Homo sapiens: one gene and its partner. The protein of the gene in region 1 interacts with the protein of each later gene in a pairwise test. Each region holds a gene or a part of one and is shown in the gene's direction. Other genes may lie near its edges.

Region 1 (9,490 bases):
AAGGGACACTCTGTGGGAGTCAAGCTGTTTGATCCTGCCTGACCCTTTGGTTCTGGGTATAAGCCACATACAGACCAAGAAGAGCTTAGGTTTCTTCCTCTTGGTGGTGAAGATTGCGGGAGTGATCATGGTATTAGCTTAATTGCTATGAAAACTGAACTAATGTCTCAAGCTGTAAATGAAACCGAAGACTTTCAGCTCAATGGGCGCTATGTTAATGTAGACATTGAGAATACTTTCCTGCCCCCTCTATAAGCAGAGTACATCGTTTTAATTTGGGCTTCCCCACCACACCCAACCTGGAAATTGTTGTGCCCCATACTATTTCCAGTTTCTTGTTTTTCACTTCCTCCAACATCCATCTAACTATGTAGCTCTCATTTGTGAGTGGGATCTACATCTGTGAAAAGGGGAATATACATATGGAATATACCTTATTAAATTTTTTTTTTTTTGAGACAGTGTCTTTGCTCTGTTGCCCAGGCTGGAGTGCAGTGGTGCGATCTTGGCTCACTGCAAGCTCTGCCTCCCAGGTTCACGCCATTCTCCTGCCTCAGCCTCCCGAGTAGCTGGGACTACAGGCACCCGCCACCATGCCCAGCTAATTTTTTGTATTTTGTTTAGTAGAGACGGGGTTTCACAGTGTTAGCCAGGATGATCTCGATCTCCTGACCTCATGATCCGCCTGTCTCGGTCTCCCAAAGTGCTGGGATTACAAGCGTGAGCCACCGCGCCCGGCCACCTTATTAAATCTTAATAGCATACTTGGTCATGGTGACACATGTTTAGGTTGCTTTGTGTTCTTTCGATTTCTGATTATTAAAGAGTAATGAAATAGCTATTAAAAAGGAGAAAATATGTTCATGAATTCTAAATTGTAAAAGTTGATTGGACCAATATTAAGCAAAACTCTTCTCTTTTATAAAGGAGACAAATTGTCCTAGAGTGCTTACATTTCTTCTTTCAAGAAATGATTTATCTTGCCTCGTCCATCAGTAAAGTTCTGTTCTGGGAAGATACCAGTTACTGAGTAAATAGGTGAGGCAAAGATGGAATGACTAGGGATTCAACTGAGAAGCAGGAACCTTCCGGAAGACGGTCATCAAAACAAAAACCAGGCAACAAAAAATGAGTGTGAAAAAACCATCATGGCAGGGAAACAAATCAGGCAAACAAATTCTTCTTTCACCTAACCATTTGGAATGAATATTTTATAATAAGAAATGTTGAATTCATTTTTAAAGTTAAAAGAAAAGCAGTTTATCTCTGTACTTTTTTCCCCCCACTCAGAACTGAATTTGGATCTGTTTTAATTGTTTATTATAAATTTTTATTTTTAAATCATGTATCACCATGTTGAGGAAAAGTACATGTTCTATCATTATGAAAAAAAGGAGAAAAAAGTGAAATAAGTGTGAAACAGTCAAAAACCAAGAAAGTCTTGTCATAGGCGACCTCAAGGAAGGTGAAGACAGTTGTGCACTGCACGACTCCAGATGGTGGCACAGATACGTTCCCTTGGCCACGGCTGTGTCTCTGAGACTTGAATTACCCACCTGACAGTTGCTAAGGAAATACATTTGCTTACGTGTAAACATCAAGCTATCAAAAGATCAGAAGACTTCTGAATTATAAATAAGCAAGTGAGCTCTTATCTTTAAGCTGTCTAGTTGCAGAAGGCCCTTCTTGACTTTAAAAGGATATTAATGGCACAGAGAATGAGAAGACCTTTTCATGCCAAATGTTTTTCACATCACTGTGTACCTTTATTGGTGGTTGAAAAAAAGCTTGTGTTTGTGAGGGGCTCCACTATTTTTAAGGTGCTTTTTCTTTTTATTTTTTTTAAGAGGGAGTCTCGCTCTGTCACCCAGGCTGGAGTGCAGTGGCGCGATCTTGGCTCACTGCAACCTCCGCCTCCCGGGTCAAGTGATTCTCCTGCCTCGGCCTCCTGAGTAGCTGAGATTACAGGTGTGTGCCACCATGCCCGGCTAATTTTTTTCTTTTTTCTTTTTTTTTCGGGATGGAGTCTCACTCTGTCACCTAGGCTGGAGTGCAGTGGCAGGATCTTGGCTCACTGCAACCTACGCCTCCCAAGTTCAAGCGATTCTTCTGTCTCAGCCTCCCTAGTAGCTGGGATTACAGGCGTAATCCCATCTACTGCCATCACACTCGGCTAATTTTTTTTTTTTTTTTGTATTTTAGTAGAGATGGGGTTTCACCATGTTGCCTAGGCTGGTCTCGAACTCCTGAGCTCAAGCAATCCACCTGCCTTGGCCTCCCGAAGTGCTAGGATTACAGGCGTGAACCACCGCACCCAGCCCATGCCCGGCTAATTTTTCTATTTTTACTAGAGACGGGGTTTGACCATGTTGGTCAGGCTGGTCTCGAACTCCTGACCTTGTGATCTGCCTGCCTCAGCCTCCCAAAGTGCTGGGATTACAGGCGTGTGCCACTGCGCACCCAGCCAGTGCTTTCTTTTTATTAACTTCTGTCAACTCAGTTTTTCTGTTTAACTATGAAGAATTAGAGGTAGTGAGGGGTTGAATAATTTGCCCTAGAGGACATGGCAGAGCCAGACCTGGACTTTGAGAGTTTAGCCATAAGTGATGTCTCTTGGTCTCATTCTGTATCAAGGCATGCGTAGAGTACTAAAGTAGAAAAGTAAACAACATAAAAGAAGTGCCCAATAAGTAAAAGCTATGAGCAGCTACAGAGATTTTGCCTTTTGGAGCAACCCAAGGTGAAAATATCTATTAAAATACATTAAGCTTGGTTTTTGGAAAAGTCGATAGGGGATTTTGAAACATGATAGCTGTCCATGAGGAACACTTTCTTCATATTCTCCATGTCATATTTTAGAGCTACTGACAAGAAAACTTTGCTGTGATGAAGTGCAGGGCTTAACACTTTTTTAGAGAAAACTTTGCATGAATTTTATATTATAGGTGAGAGGAAAAAAGATGTATTCAATCAAAAGTAATGGTGTCTCTAGCTTGCCAAACGATCCATTAAAGACTTCATCCAGCAAGTGTTGAGTGATGAGTATTTTATTTCCAATTCTATCTTAGTATGAAGAATATTTTATTCACCATTCTATCTCTAACACCAAGCACAGTGCCTGGCATAACAACATTTATTTGTTGAACAAATGAACACAGGTCTCTAGTTAGGTTCTGATCCTAGTGCTTCATTGAATGGCTTTGTAAATGAGACACATAATTTTTCATAGCCTTCATTTTGTCATCTGTGAAAGAGAGGGCTTTAGGTGTATTGATTTCTTAAGGATCCCTTTGGCTTGAAATTCTGATTCTAGAATCTCAAATGGAAAATTTGTGTTCACATTGCACGTGGTGTTTGGTTTTTGTTTTCAAAAGTTTGTGCATTAAATCTCAACAGCTTATTTTCTTGCAGCACAGTGAAGAGTCCCTAAGAACATATTACGTGATGGGAAATGAGAAATAACTGCACTGCAAGCCTGATGAAGGTAATTCACCTTGGGGAATAGGTGTCACCCTGAGTAACACCAGTACTGTCTCCTCAAATATGAGCCAAAAGGTGTGTCTCAGGCAGTTTTGGCAAGATTTTCTCCCTACACTCCTAGAAATTTGCAAGACAAGTTTACAGAAATTACTCCTCCCTATTTCCAAATAAAGATAATGTAATAGATCTATAGAATATTAGAATAGTCTTCTGGCCAGCAGAGGACTTGAGGGAAATAATTGGAATGCACACATTCTTTCCTTTTACGGAACAAATAAAATATACAAGGAATGTCCTTGTGGAATCCACTACACTGGGCCAGCATGATATGGCTGTAATCTTAGAGTTGTGGTTTCCAAGTTCAGCATGCTTGAGGCAATTTCTTTTTGGTATTTTGTTGGTGAACAGGATATGTGATACCATTAATTTAGCCTGTATCAAAAACTAGTTCAAGACCAACAGCTCCTTCTAGAACACAACATTTTAGGAGAATAGAGCAATGTTTCCCTAAGCAGTCGGTCATATTTCACAGAGGAGTGTTAGTTTTCTGGGGTAGTGGGTATGATTAAAAAAAAGATAGGTAGATAGGTAGGTAGGTAGATTAGATTAAATTGGATTAGATTTGATGAGATAAACAGGTTTGTGTTCAGGGGAACACGAGGTTAAGCAAGCCTAAGCAGGTTTTTTGGTTGAAGGTCTTCTCAGAACTTCTAGTATGTCAATATGCCTTGTAGATCTCTAAGTGGCAGGGACAGAGACTGGGGTACAGATTTCCCAAACATATTTGTTTAAGAAACCTGCTTTTTTCCCCCAGAATCTTTTGTGGAACTTTTGCCTCATGGAACACAATTTCAGAAATAATTTATACGTGATGACTGTGTAGAATGTTTTTCTTGTCAGGATTTTCAGTTTAGGTAAGGCCAAGGCATTTTTTTTTTACAGTACATTGAAAACTAGATATGATATCAAGAGAAAAAATTATGCTTGGCTACTTAGAATGACATACTATTTTTAATAAATTTGTATTTTGTATCATCAGTATTACTATTCAGTGTAGGGTATTTTTTATGCCCAATGCTAATGTGCTATGACTTGGTAAAATTAATTTACCCTAGGATTTACATAACCAGATTAATAAATTGTGAGTTGTAGGGAGTCTTGGAATTGCCTGAATTGACATTAAAATATTTGTTTTGAGAAATTTTTTTTTAACCTTGGTTTTACGTAACCAAGGACATACACTACATTATAAATATTGTGATGGTTTATTTTTCCAAACTTTTCTGAATGTGGGGTGCCCATTGAGTAATAATGCAAATCACCAATGACTTTGTAAAAATTGACATGATGAGTAGAACTGCAGAATTCAAAGATGATGATGATGATTTTTGAAACGATGTTTCCAGAATTGTTAAATTATGTATCAACATATGTTAACTGCAACTTCTCATGTTTAATGATGTTTACAATTAATACAATACCATACTCGCCAGTATAATACTAACAGTCATAATTAACTCAGAATAGATTCTTTGAAGTGGTTCAAAGGGCTTTTCATAATAAATAAGTAGCCTCTAATCAGCTAATATAAAGTGGGTATTTTTTAGGATGTGAGAAGTACTGGTATGTCTGATAAAACATATAATTTAGGTTGACAAAATGAGTTTGAATGATCCAGATTCACTACCCCAAGTCAGAAGGAAGTCTGACATTCCAGTGAAAGCTTTATTTAGACAGAGACAAGGAATCTTTGAGATAACAGGCTTTGGACTGTGCTATCTTGAGTGTTAGAGCTGAGTAGTTTTCCCAGAATCTCTAAGTCCTTTTTATGCTCTTTTATGAATGAATAGAATTAGTAAAAGATAAATAAATTTTTTCTTTTGGATTTCTTAACCAGTGGAAAAAATGTTGACTTTAAAAGTTCATAAAATCAAATTTTGCTTAAGAATATGTTATTTCCACTTGTGAGGCCAGCCTGGTAGACCTCTGGGATCCTTTTCTGTTCACTCACACACCACTGAGATAAGGAGTGAAGTGTGGGCTAAATAGGGCTGAGGCTTGGGCAAGGGCATTTCTGCCAGAGCACCAGAGACGTCAGCATCTCAAGGGCACTGTGGTATGGAAAAGGACGCCACATGAGTAAATTTTAAAAATATAAATATTTTAAAGGGTAAAAATGAGGGTCCCTGTATTTGAGGATATAAAAGATGAAACTGAAGAAGAAAAGATAGGGGAAGAAGAAAATGAAGAAGACCAGGTGAGTGAGAAAACACATACTCAGACCAGCGTTTGTTCCTCTAAATTGACAATGAGAAAAATGTTCTTTCTGTTCTTTTCTTTTTTTTCAAATAGGTCTTCTATAAGCCTGTTATTGAAGACTTAAGCATGGAATTGGCCAGAAAATGCACGGAACTCATTAGCGATGTAAGTGGCTGGAGTAATTTTTGTCTTATTTTGCATTGCACCTGTGGTATTATTATGTTATAGAGTCATAGAGCTGTGGGGGAAACCCTGAAATCACCTTTTAAAACACAGTCACTTTCCAGATCATGGAACAAAGTCCTGAAATTTTCAGTGATTTCCCCAAGGTCACCTATACAGAGAATTTCTGCTAGAGCAAGTCTCCTCATTCTTAATCCAGAATCCTGTCCCTTATGAGTTTTGCTGTCACGCTGGCATGAAATCATAAGGCATTGAATTGCAGTATTTATTCCATTTGAGAACCCCCAAAGATTTTAAAATGAATATAATGATGTAATTTGTCTTGGGAGGCCCTCTATCTAAATGAATAGTCATTTTTTTAACATTTTGGGGCCTTCTGAACAATCTAATGAATGGACTTGTCTTCCAGAACAGGAAAATGCATATATATATATATATATATATATATATATATATGCATATAATATTTATTTACAATTCAGGATTTGTTGATTACTGACCTGCTTGCTAAGAACCCTGATATTAGTGCAAGGATATTAGTGCAAGGGGTATTTTTGTTGTGACATTTTTTAGTAACTGGGATTGGTTGATATTACACTTTAAGGGAATCCCAGAATTATTGAATGATTGAACATATAATTTTATGTTAAATATGTAAGCTAGAATTCAAGAAGTACAAGGAAAAATGTTGCTCACCAGGGATGAGAATTTAGATGATCCTCATTAGCGGTTCTAAGAGGATTGCTGGTCCAGAGAAAGGGTAACTCCTGTAAAGTGAATATGTGCCTGTGTCTTCATTTAGAGAGATGAGCACAATACTGGTTGTTTCTGTTGTTGATAATAAGCAAAATGATCAGAATGTTTTGCACGTTTGTTTTCTAACGGAAGTCAGTCCTGGGCAGGAGGGTAGTGGTCTGGCACATCCTCCAAAGTCAACCTGCCTGGGTTGACTCCCCAGTAACCTTGGGAAGGTTATGGAACCTGGCTTGGCTCCATCCCTCAGCTGTAACATTTATAATAAGATTAAATAATGGTAATGCATATAAATGCTGAATAAACTATCTGGAACATTGTGAGTACTCCATAAATGTTAGCTGTTATTAACTACTCTGTCTGTTACTTCCTTTTACATCCATCCAATCACAATTTAGATATGACTGGCTCTTTCTGACAAACCAGAAGGCAAGCACAAAGGATGCTGGTGGAAATCATACCCTTTCCCATATACTTGACATGTGATGTAATTACCCTTTAAATTAAGTATTTCTTTGTGCTATTACTTAATAGTCATTAGCTATTGTATGTGAAAGTTCTCTGTAAATTGCAGTAATAATAAGTGACAATGACAACAACAACAACAATAACACTATTGGCAACAGTTAAGATTTAGTGACTATTGTGTGCCAGGGATTGCAGCTTGCGAGGTAGGCGCTAGGCTTTTTCTCATTTCTGAAGCGAGGAGATAGAGGCACAGAGAGGTTCAGTACCTTGCCTGGGTCACACAGTTAAGCAGAGGCAGTAATAGTTGAACACAGAGGCCTCCCTCTTTACACTGCCAAGTTATCTCTCCCTGTAGATTTCCATGAAATGTTGTTCTTCGCCTTATTATTATTATGTTACTATTATTAGTAGTAATGCTACCAACTAAAACCCTGAGTTCCTAACCTCTTCCAGCTTTGATATATTTTTATTGAAGTGCAATTATAGCTGAGCTAACTTGTGTTACATAAACCATCAGGACTAAAGTGGTAACTGTAGTTAGTAGGTGATTTGGTTGGAGTTGTTTTGGATAAGATTGTCTATCAGTGACTTTAAAACCAACATGTTGTGAGGGGTGGTGGCCTTTATCATTATGCAAAAGCTAAATCCATACATTTCACACCCACGTAGGTAAAATGAAACAGATAGGCATACTTTCTGTTTATTACAGATTTTTGTGGCATGGTAGAATGTACTACTTAAATTTAGGACATGATTATTCTGCCTTAATTTTTTTTTTTTTTTTTTTTTTTAGACAGAGTCTCGCTCTATCACCCAGGCTGGAGGGCAGTGGCACGATCTCGGCTCACTGCAAGCTCCGCCTCCTGGGTTCACGCCATTCTCCTGCCTCAGCCACCCGAGTAGCCGGGACCACAGGCGCCTGCCACTAAGCCCGGCTAATTTTTTTGTATTTTTTTTTTTTTTTTTTTAGTAGAGACGGGGTTTCACCGTGTTAGTTAGGATGGACTCGATCTCCAGACCTCGTGATCTGCCCGCCTCGGCCTCCCAAAGTGCTGGGATTACAGGCGTGAGCCACCATGCCCGGCCTATTCTGGCTTAATTTATATCTGTATACACATTCACATTTTGCTTCCGAATAGAATTCTATACTTGCTAAGATACTTATTTAATTTTTAGATTTTTTTCCTTTTTCTCTTCTTTTCTTTCTTCCTTTTTTTCCTTCCTTCCTTCTTCTTTTTTATTTTTCTGGACAGAGTCTCACTCTGTTGCCCAGGCTGGAGTTCTGTCATGTGACTGCAGCTCACTGCAGTCTCAATTTCCTGGGCTCAAGTGATTCTCCAGCCTTAGCCTTCCAAGTGGCTAGGACTACAGGTGTGTGCTACCATGCCTGGCTAATTTTCATTTTCTTTTTCGTAGAGATGGAGTCTCACTATGTTGCCCAGGCTGGTCTCAAGCTCTTGGCTTTAAGTGATTCTCCTGCATCGTTCTCCCAGAGTGCTGGGATTACAGGTGTGAGCCACCGGGCTGGCCCTGCTTCGTTTCTGTAGATGAGAGGGATGGTTTCATGGACTTCTCTTCATGGTGCAGCCTAATTGTTACTCTTTGGACTTCTTCCAGCTTTCATATATCCTTAATAACCAATATGTAATAATCAGAACTGTGCAGAGTGGTACAGATGTGGACGGTCTAGATCACGTGTAGAGCAGGATGATGTTTTGCTTAGCTTCTAGCACCCTTTATGATGCTATGAAGAGTTTCTTAGACTTGGGAGCTGCAGAAAGCTGTTAGATCAGCTTGATAATCTGTAGACCATCAGAGCCATTTCATTCCTAATTTCTGACCTGTAGCTGATAGCTTAGGACCCATCATCTTTAAATAATAGTTTGAATTATTTTAACCACACTAGGGCTAGATCTAATCTGTAGTTTTCTGCCCTCTTGCCTGGCCCTTTGAGAACTTCTGAAGTTCATCTCAGTTTGCCGTTTCCCTTACTGAGACAGCTTGGAGTCAGCAGACCTGTAGACACTGCTATATCATCCCCTTGTCAGACAATTTTATAGAAATGTTAAGCAAGATTGGCCTAGAGATCAGCCCTAGGAAGCCTGCACTGCTTAGAATTCTCCATAGAGAGAAATGTCCGTTTTTCAGGTCAAGTGGCTTCACTTTGGGCATCAGTATAAGGCATTTTTCTTTCTTTCTCTTTCTCCCCCCACCTAGTTTCTGCTTTGCACTTGCTCTACCCACATTATGGGGTTCCTCTTTGCACAACTCACTTCCCAGTCTTGAAGAACAGCTGGTCTTCTGAGGCAGCCTCTTTTATTTTTCTGTTAATCACATAATACTATTA
Region 2 (8,874 bases), on another chromosome or scaffold:
CTGGCTATTTCTCCACTGACTGTTTTCCAGAAGTATGTAGAAGATTTTTCCCTGCTGGTGACATCTCTCATGCTCTATGTGGTGTTATGTCTTTTTTTTCTTTCCAATTCTCACTTTAACAGAGTCCCAGAGGAGAGGACATATATGCTTGTTTAGTTTGCCTTCTTTCGCTGGAAGCTTTAAAATAAGTTTTAAGACTGGGTACAGTTGGCTTATGCCTATAATCCCAGCAGTTTGGGAGGCCAAAGTGGGAGGATAGCTTGAGATCGGGAGCTCTAGACCATCCTGGGCAATATAGTGAGACCCTGACTCTATAAAAAATTTAAAAATTAGCCCCGTGTGATAGTGGACACCTTTAGTCCCAGCTACTCAGGTGGCTGAGTTGGGATGATCCCTTGAGCTCAGGAGTTCAAGGCTGCCGTGAGCTATAAGTGTGCCACTGCACTCTAGCCTACATGACAGGGTGAGACCCTGTCTCAAAAATAAACAAATAAACAAAATAAAATATAATTATGTTTTAAAATAAAATAACATAATGTCTTAACAGTAGATTTTGACATATCTCCATGCTAGCTGGCATCTCGTCATCTTTAAGGGCTGCATAGTATTCTGCAGTATGACTGTACTATAATACGTGTCGTCATTCCCCAGTTAAGTGGTTTTAAATGTATTGCTGTTATCAACAGGGCTCCAGTGAGCATTCTTGTACATATATCTTTGCACACACATACAAGCATTTCCTCAGGATAAATTCCTGAAATGGAACAAGTGTCAAAGGATATAGACACTTCAAATTTTGATAGTTAAAATGTCAAATTGCCTTTAACCATATGTGAGTACTCTCATGAAATGATAAATTCAATATCTGATACCCTTAGGTACTAAGGAAAAGGACTTTCCTTAGTGGAGGTCCAGGAGAAAATCTTCGAGGCAGAGATTAACAAAATCAGTGAGATAGGAATGTGTATAGCTTGTTTATGGAATTAGAATGAGGATTTCCGTAAATTACCAATGAACCCCATAAGACTACACAGGATGGAAGCTTAATAGTGCATGGCTGTTTGATGTCATGTTGCTAAATTCCTGTCCGTTCCCAACTTGTACTGGAGTGACATAAACCATATGGGGCAATTGGAAGAGCTTTCCAAAACAGCTGAGCTTAAAGATCAAGCAAAAGGAGAAAGGATATTCCTGCAAAGGTTCTGATTCCATGCCCTTAAGTATCTCTGATGGTGTTAGGGGCCGATGGGCAGGTAGCCCGCAGGGGTAAATGATCAAGGTGTTGAAGGCGCTCCAGAGAGCAGGTGTTAAACATTTTCGGCCGGGCGAGGTGGCTCACGCCTGTAATCCGAGCACTTAGGGAGGCCAAGGCAGGCGGATCACAAGGTCAAGAGATCAAGACCATCCTGGCCAACATGGTGAAACCGTCTCTACTAAAAATACAAAAATTAGCTGGGCATGGTGGCAGGCACCTGTAGTCCCAGCTACTTGGGGAGCTGAGACAAGAATCGCTTGAACCCGGGAGTTGGAGGTTGCAGTGAGCTGCACTCCAGCCTGGCGACAGAGAGAGATTCCATCTTAAAAAAAAAAAAAAAAAAAAAAACCTTTTCAGGAGGGCCTGAGGCTATGGCAGGAGGAGCAGGAGAGGAAGGTGCAAGCCCTCTCGGAGATGGCATCTGAACAACTGAAGCGGTTTGATGAATGGAAGGAACTGAAGCAGCATAAAGAATTCCAGGACTTGCGGGAAGTAATGGAGAAGAGGTGAGTCTCCCTGAATTATGACTGGGAATGTTGATGTGTTCAACTGGAACTCTTTCCCAAGAGGAATTCCAAAGGGAAAGAGTTGAACAACTTCTGAGTCCTTAAATATCAAGGTAAAATAGGCAGAGAATTTTATAACCTGGAAAAAAGACCAAACTTGGAGAGACAACCAAAGGAACACAAAGAGGGAGGCTTTTAGGAGAGGTAAAACAATTTTACGGGCGTGGTGGAACACAGCTGTAGTCTCAATTACTAGAGAGGCTGAGGCAGGAGGATTGCTTGAGTCCAGGAGTTTGAGGCTGTGGTGAGCTATGCTCTGCAGCCTGGGCAACATAACGAGACCCCATCTCTAAGAAAAAGGGAAGGAAGGGAAGGGAGGGCAGGGAGAGGGAGAGAAAAGAAAGAAAGAAAAACAATTTCAGGAAGTATCCCTGACTATTCCTCCCTGCCATTTTTCATGCAGCTCCAGAGAAGCCTTGGGACACCAAGAGAAGCTAAAAGCTGAGCACCGTCACAGAGCAAAGGTCAGAGCCTGGCAGAATTGGTGTGGGTGTTTTGGTGTCTGTCTGTAACCTGCCTGGAGAGCCAGGTTTTGGCAGATGGCCACCATGGAGGATCTGGGCCGTATTATGCCTGTGTATGACTAACCTTGGGATGTCCTCTTCCTGCTCTGAGCCCATCTGTGAAAATATGTAGCCCACGTAGAATTTGAGGACTGTAGAAAGAAGAAGCCCAGGAACCCCTCAGAGAGAAGTCACTCAGCCCTTTTCTACAGATTCTCAACCTGAAGCTGCGGGAAGCAGAGCAGCAGCGCGTGAAGCAAGCAGAACAGGAGCGGCTTCGGAAGGAAGAAGGCCAGATCCGCCTGCGGGCCCTCTATGCTCTGCAGGAGGAGATGCTGCAGCTCAGCCAGCAGCTGGATGCCTCTGAGCAGCACAAAGCCCTGCTTAAGGTCGACCTGGCTGCCTTCCAGACCCGAGGCAACCAGCTGTGCAGCCTCATCTCAGGGATCATCCGGGCCTCTTCAGAGGTGAGGGGGGCTTCAGAGTGACTCTTTGCTGTCTTTGAAATGGAAGCCTTTAAAAGCAAAACTGTTTTCTGACTTAAAAAGTAATACCTGCTATCTGCTTATTGGGGGAAATACCAAACATTACTTGTTATCTCCATATCTCTTTACCTAGAAGTAACCACTGTTAACATTTTATTTTGTTTCTTTTATTTATTTCTTTATTTTTATACCTGCTTATTCTGGAGTCTTTTTTTTTTTTTTTTTTTTTTTTTGTGATGGGGTTCCCCTTTGTCACCCAGGCTGGAGTGCAGTAACACAGTCTCAGCTCATGCAACCTCTGCCTCCCGGGCTCAAGTGATCCTCCCACCTCAGTCTCCTGAGTAGCTGGGACTACAGGCGCATACCACCATGCCCTGCTAATTTTTGTATTTTTTTGTAGAGACAGGGTTTTGCCATGTTGCTCAGGCTGGTCTCTAACTCCTGGGCTGAAGTGATCCCCCTACTTCGGCCTCCCAAACTGCTGAGATTACAGGTGTGAGCCACGGTGCCAAACTTTTTTTGTTTCGTTTTGTTTTTAAATTAGCAATAGAGATCTCACTATGTTTCCCAGGCTGGTCTTGAACTCCTGGGCTGAAGTGATCCTCCCACCTTAGCCTCCCGAAGTATTGGGGTTACAGGCACGAGCCATTGTACCTGCCCTGTTTCTTTGCTTTGCTTTTTTTTTTTTTTTTTTTTTTTTTTTTTGAGACAGGGTCTCACACTCTTGCCCCGGCTGGAGTGCAGTGGTGTGATCATGGCTCACTTCAACCTCCGGCTTCCAGGTTCAAGCGATTCTCGGATTACTTGAGGCTAGGAGTTCGAGACCAGTAGGTTTCAGCCAACATGGTGAAACCCAGTCTCTACTAAAAATACAAAAATTAGCTGGGTGTGGTGACGCACACCTGTAATCCCAGCTACTTGGGAAGCTGAGGCACGAGCAGCACTTGAACCTGGGAGGCAAAGGTTGCAATGACCGAGATCTTGCCACTGCACTCCAACCTGGGCAATGGAGATTCTGTCTCAAAAAATAATTATTATTATAATAAAACAGTATTATTTTTGTCTAACATATTGTCACAAACTTTTTAAAAAATTACGCTGGCCCTTGTTGCTGAGAATACAGACCAATTTATACTTAGAAACTATGGATGTGACAGTAAGTTGGAATTATTAATACCTTTAAGAGAACAGGGAAAGAAGTATCAATTCGTTGAATGTGGATACTCCATTGGTGCAACAATTCCAATTGCAGGAAATTTATTGACTTGTATGAGGTATGATTTACCTAGGGAATGACCACTAAGCACCATCTCCGTCACTCTGACAGAGCAGCTATCCCACAGCAGAGAGTCAAGCTGAGGCTGAGCGAGCTCTGCGGGAAATGCGGGACCTCCTGATGAACTTGGGGCAGGAGATCACCAGAGCCTGCGAAGACAAGAGGAGGCAGGATGAAGAAGAGGCCCAGGTAAAGCTGCAAGAGGCACAGATGCAGCAGGGACCAGAGGCCCACAAAGAGCCCCCAGCTCCCAGCCAGGGCCCAGGAGGGAAACAGAATGAAGGTGGGTTTCAGTATGGATGTGGTCCTTTAACTCGTAAGTTTCAAATGTGAAGAGAAACAAGAGCATGTTTTGAATGTTGTGTTAAACTGTAGGACAGTTAACCAGAATTTTATGTAATGTATTTCATTCAGTTTTGGTTGATGTAGAGTCTGATTTACGATTCCAACACTTTGCGTGAGGACTTGAAATTCTGTATAACTCTAGCAGATACATTATTTCAATTATTGCTGCTGCTGAGTATTTTAAATAAATGCGCACAGATATGTGTTGGTGTAATACGTATAAGGGGTCAGGAGTTCGAGACCAGCCTGGCCAACATGCCGAAACTCCCATCTCTACCAAAAATAAAAAAATTAGCTGGGCATGGTGGCACGCACCTGTAGTCCCAGCTACTCGGGAGGCTAAGGCAGGAGAATTGCTTGACCCAGGAGCTGGAGGTTGCAGTGAGCTGAGGTGGTGCCACTGCACTCCAACCTGGTGACAGAGTGAGACTCCGTCTCAAAAAAAGAAAAAGAATCAGTGTACCATAGTGTTTGAGAGTGCTGACTCTGGAGCCAGATCAGTGGGAGTCTGGTTTTTGTTGTTGTTGTTGTTGTTGTTGTTTTTTGCGGGGAGGGGATGGAGATTTGCTCTTGTTGCCCAGGCTGGATTGCAGTGGCGCGATCTTGGCTCTCTGCAACCTCTGCCTCCCGGGTTCAAACAATTCTCCTGCCTCAGCCTCCCGAGTAGCTGGGATTACAGGTGCCTGCCACTGTGCCTGGCTAATTTTTGTATTTTTAGTAAAGATGGGATTTCACCACGTTGGCCAGGCTGGTCTCAAACTCCTGACCTCATGATCCACCCGCCTCGGCCTCCCAAAATGCTAGGATTACAGGTGTGAGCCACCGCACCCAGCCTGGGAGTCTAATTTTTCTTTTTTGGTGTGTTTTGTTTTTGTTTTTGTTTTTTTTGAGACAGAGTTTTGCTCTTGTTGCCCAGGCTGGAGTGCAATGGCACAATCTCAGCTCACTACAACCTCCGCCTCCCAGGTTCAAGCGATTCTCCTGCCTCAGCCTCCTGAGTAGCTGAGATTACAGGCATGCACCACCACACCTGGCTAATTTTTTTGTATTTTTAGTGGAGACGGGGTTTCTCCATGTTGGTCAGGCTGGTTTCGAACTCCCGACCTCAGGTGATCTGCCAGCATTGGCCTCCCAAAGTGCTGGGATTATAGGCATGAGCCACTGCGCCCAGCGTTTTTTGTTTTTTGTTTTTTTTTTGAGATAGGAGTCTCACTCTTGTTACCCAGGCTGGAGGAGTACAGTGGTATGATTATGGCTCACTATAGCCTCACCCTCCCAGGCTCAAGTGATCCTCCCCACTCAGCCTCCCAAGTAACTGGGACTACAGGCATGCGCCACCCTGCCTGGCTAATTTGTGTATTTTTTGTAGAGATGGGATTTCACCATGTTGTGCAAGCTGGTCTCAAGCTCCTGGGCCTGTCTTGGCCTCCTAGAGTACTGTAATTATAGGCGTGGGTCACCACACCCAGCCTTAGTTTTTCTACTTAGTAGTAATGTGACCATGGCAAATCACTTAACCTTTTTGTGCCTGTTTCCTTTTCTATAAAATGGAGATAATAATAGTATCTATTTCATAGTTATGGTGACAGTTAAAGCAGTCAGTACATACATAAAGTGATTATAACAGTGCCTGCCTCATATTACATGTTCAGTAAATACTAGCTATTACTAAAACCTCTCTTTTATTTCTCAGACCTCCAGGTGAAGGTACAAGACATTACAATGCAGTGGTACCAGCAGCTGCAGGATGCTTCCATGCAGTGTGTGTTGACCTTTGAGGGCCTGACCAACAGCAAGGACAGTCAGGTAGGGGAGAGGTATATGGCAGTAATTTTGTGGACTTGATGGTTCTCAGAGAATGATCACTTCGTGTCCCAAAGGAATGTAGCTGGCATGTCACTTTACCTGATTCTAAGTGACATCTACTCAGCTCTTCAGAACACTGCTTTCTCACTGTTCTCTTCTGGCAGGCCAAAAAGATAAAGATGGACCTCCAGAAGGCTGCTACCATCCCAGTGAGCCAAATCTCTACCATTGCAGGTTGGTCAGAGGGGTTGAGAACATGACCTTTCATTTCATTGTATTATCTTTCAGACTCCAAATCTATGTATCTGTAAGGTTCCTATAAAAGTATATTCAAACAAATGTTTACAGTTGGATCGGGTACATATAAGTGACATACATCTTGTTTCCCTGATATAATCATGGCTGGGCTCACGCCTGTAATCCCAGGACTTTGGGAGGCCGAGGTGGGCGGATCACGAGGTCAGGAGTTCAAGAGCAGCCTAACCAACATAGTGAAACCCTGTCTCTACTAAAAATACAAATACTAGCTGGGTGTGGTGGCTCTCACCTATAATGCCAGTTACTCAGGAGGCTGAGGCAGGACAATTGCTTGAACCCAGGAGGCGGAGATTGCAGTGAGCCGAGATCACACCACTTCACTCCAGCCTGGGTGACAGAGCGAGACTCTGTCTCAAAAACAAAAAAAGAAGACTCTTTTTTTTTTCTTTTTTTCTTTTTTTTTTTTTTGAGACAGAGTCTTGCTCTGTCGCCCAGGCTGGAGTGAAGTGGCGTGATCTCGGCTCACCGCAAGCTCCGCCTACCGGCTTCACGCTGTTCTATTCTCCTCCCTCAGCCTTCTGAGTAGCTGGGACTACAGGCGCCCACCACCATACCCGGCTAATTTTTTGTATTTTTAGTAGAGACGGGGTTTCACTGTGTTAGCCAGGATGTTCTTAATCTCCTGACCTGGTGATCCACCTGCCTCGGCCTCCCAAAGGGCTGGGATTACAGGCGTGAGCCACTGTGCCCAGCCCCCTTTTTTTTTTTTTTTGAGATGTAGTCTTGCTCTGTCACCCAGACTGGAGTGCAGTGGCGCAATCTCGGCTCACTGCAAGCTCTGCCTCCCGGGTTCACGCCATTCTCCTGCCTCAGCCTCCCAAGTAGCTGGGACTACAGCTGCCCGCCACCACGCCCAGCTAATTTTTTGTATTTTTAGTAGACACGGGGTTTCACCGTGTTAACCAGGATGGTCTCGACCTCCTGACCTTGTGATCCGCCCGCCTCAGCTTCCCAAAGCGCTGGGATTACAGGCGTGAGTCACTGCACCCGGCCTTTTTGACTCATTTTTAACAAGCTACCTTTTATGGCAAATTATTAGGATGGCTCTTAGCTTTGAAGTTGCAGTTTACTGCTGAAAACATCACTCAGGGAACCTAGGCTGTGACTTGCAGGCTTTGCTTCTGTCCTACAACATTAGCTTTTCCAAATTACTCCAAGCTCGCCTTGTTCATCCTCCAGGACTCCTTTTCTCTCCAGAGACTGAGGTTTAGAAAGTGAGAACCAGACAAGGAAGAAACTTCTTTAGAACCAGAGGTTCATTTGTATGGAGCTGTAGATGTGGAAGCCTCCAGATTATAGACTGAGCTGCCAGGTGGCTGGGGAGTGTGTGTGCAACTGGAACACTCCTCTGACGCATCGTGGGTTCCGTTCCCCGACTCACTTCTCATTGCCTGGAAAGCATAGGAAAATTTCAGTTCCTGCCCTTGATAGGCAGTCCAGCAAAACTTACATATGACTTTGCTGCCTGAAATTCTTTCTGGAACAGGGCAAGGTATAAATAAATAAATAACATATCACTTTTTGGAATTTAAAGTGCTGTGTCCTTTGATAGCAACAGCAAAGCAAGAGAGGTTGACTGGACAGCCACTCCACACCTCGATGGCCGTTCCCAGTTCCCCTCTGTTGACTGCAGACAGGGTCAGTACCTCCTTCATCAGGAAAATGGAGACATCCAGTGTGAGCTCCTCAGAGCCCCTCCACCACTGCACAGTGACATTTACCTCTTAGTCTCCTGTGTCACTGGATGAGGCGTCCTTGCTGCTGGGCTTACCCTTCCACCTCTGCCCTTGTTCCCTTTCCTTCCTGTCTCCTGTCAGACTGCCTCATCGTTTATTGCCTTTCCTGTTTTCTGTGATTACTCCTTTTTATAGGCTCCTCTCTCTCAGCCTGTAAATATATGTGAGCCCCTCACATCCTAACATGAGTCTCCCTTGATCCTATGTCTTCTAAGTGTTTGCTGATCTTCCTGAGGTTTCTGTTCGGCACTGTTGCTGCTTTCTCTGTGCAACTCTACTCCTTTGGCCTCCATGGTGCCATTACTTTCCAGGTTCTTCTCCTCCCTCCCTCACTACCCTTTCCTCTCTCTCTCTCCCTCTCTCCCTCTCTCTCTCTCCCCTTTGTGGGTTTCTTAGTCTTCTACCCCACTCTAATTGTAGGTGATTCCTAGGGATCTACTCTTTTTTTTTTTTGAGAGTCTCGCTCTTTCGCCCAGGCTGGAGTGCAGTGGCACTATATCGGCTCAGTGCAAGCTCCACCTCCCGGGTTCACGCCATTCTCCTGCCTCAGCCTCCCGAGTAGCTGGGACTGCAGGCGCCTGCCA

What was found. Proteins that work in one complex are often made in the same cells at the same time.
Region 2: the proteins of NEBL (region 1) and GLE1 interact in binary tests that used the Homo sapiens proteins (3 or more experiments, as listed by UniProt).

Annotation. Positions count from the first base shown.
Region 1 is NC_000010.11:20,893,372-20,902,861, reverse strand, and holds the start of NEBL (nebulette), read left to right. Parts: upstream 1-5,550; 5' UTR 5,551-5,656; coding exon 5,657-5,737; intron 5,738-5,832; coding exon 5,833-5,904; intron 5,905-9,490. UniProt on the Homo sapiens protein: Binds to actin and plays an important role in the assembly of the Z-disk. May functionally link sarcomeric actin to the desmin intermediate filaments in the heart muscle sarcomeres.
Region 2 is NC_000009.12:128,521,056-128,529,929, forward strand, and holds part of GLE1 (mRNA export factor GLE1), read left to right. Parts: intron 1-1,612; coding exon 1,613-1,761; intron 1,762-2,224; coding exon 2,225-2,285; intron 2,286-2,534; exon of another isoform or gene 2,535-2,536; coding exon 2,537-2,791; intron 2,792-4,136; coding exon 4,137-4,368; intron 4,369-6,123; coding exon 6,124-6,236; intron 6,237-6,400; coding exon 6,401-6,470; intron 6,471-7,555; exon of another isoform or gene 7,556-7,945; intron 7,946-8,874. UniProt on the Homo sapiens protein: Required for the export of mRNAs containing poly(A) tails from the nucleus into the cytoplasm. May be involved in the terminal step of the mRNA transport through the nuclear pore complex (NPC).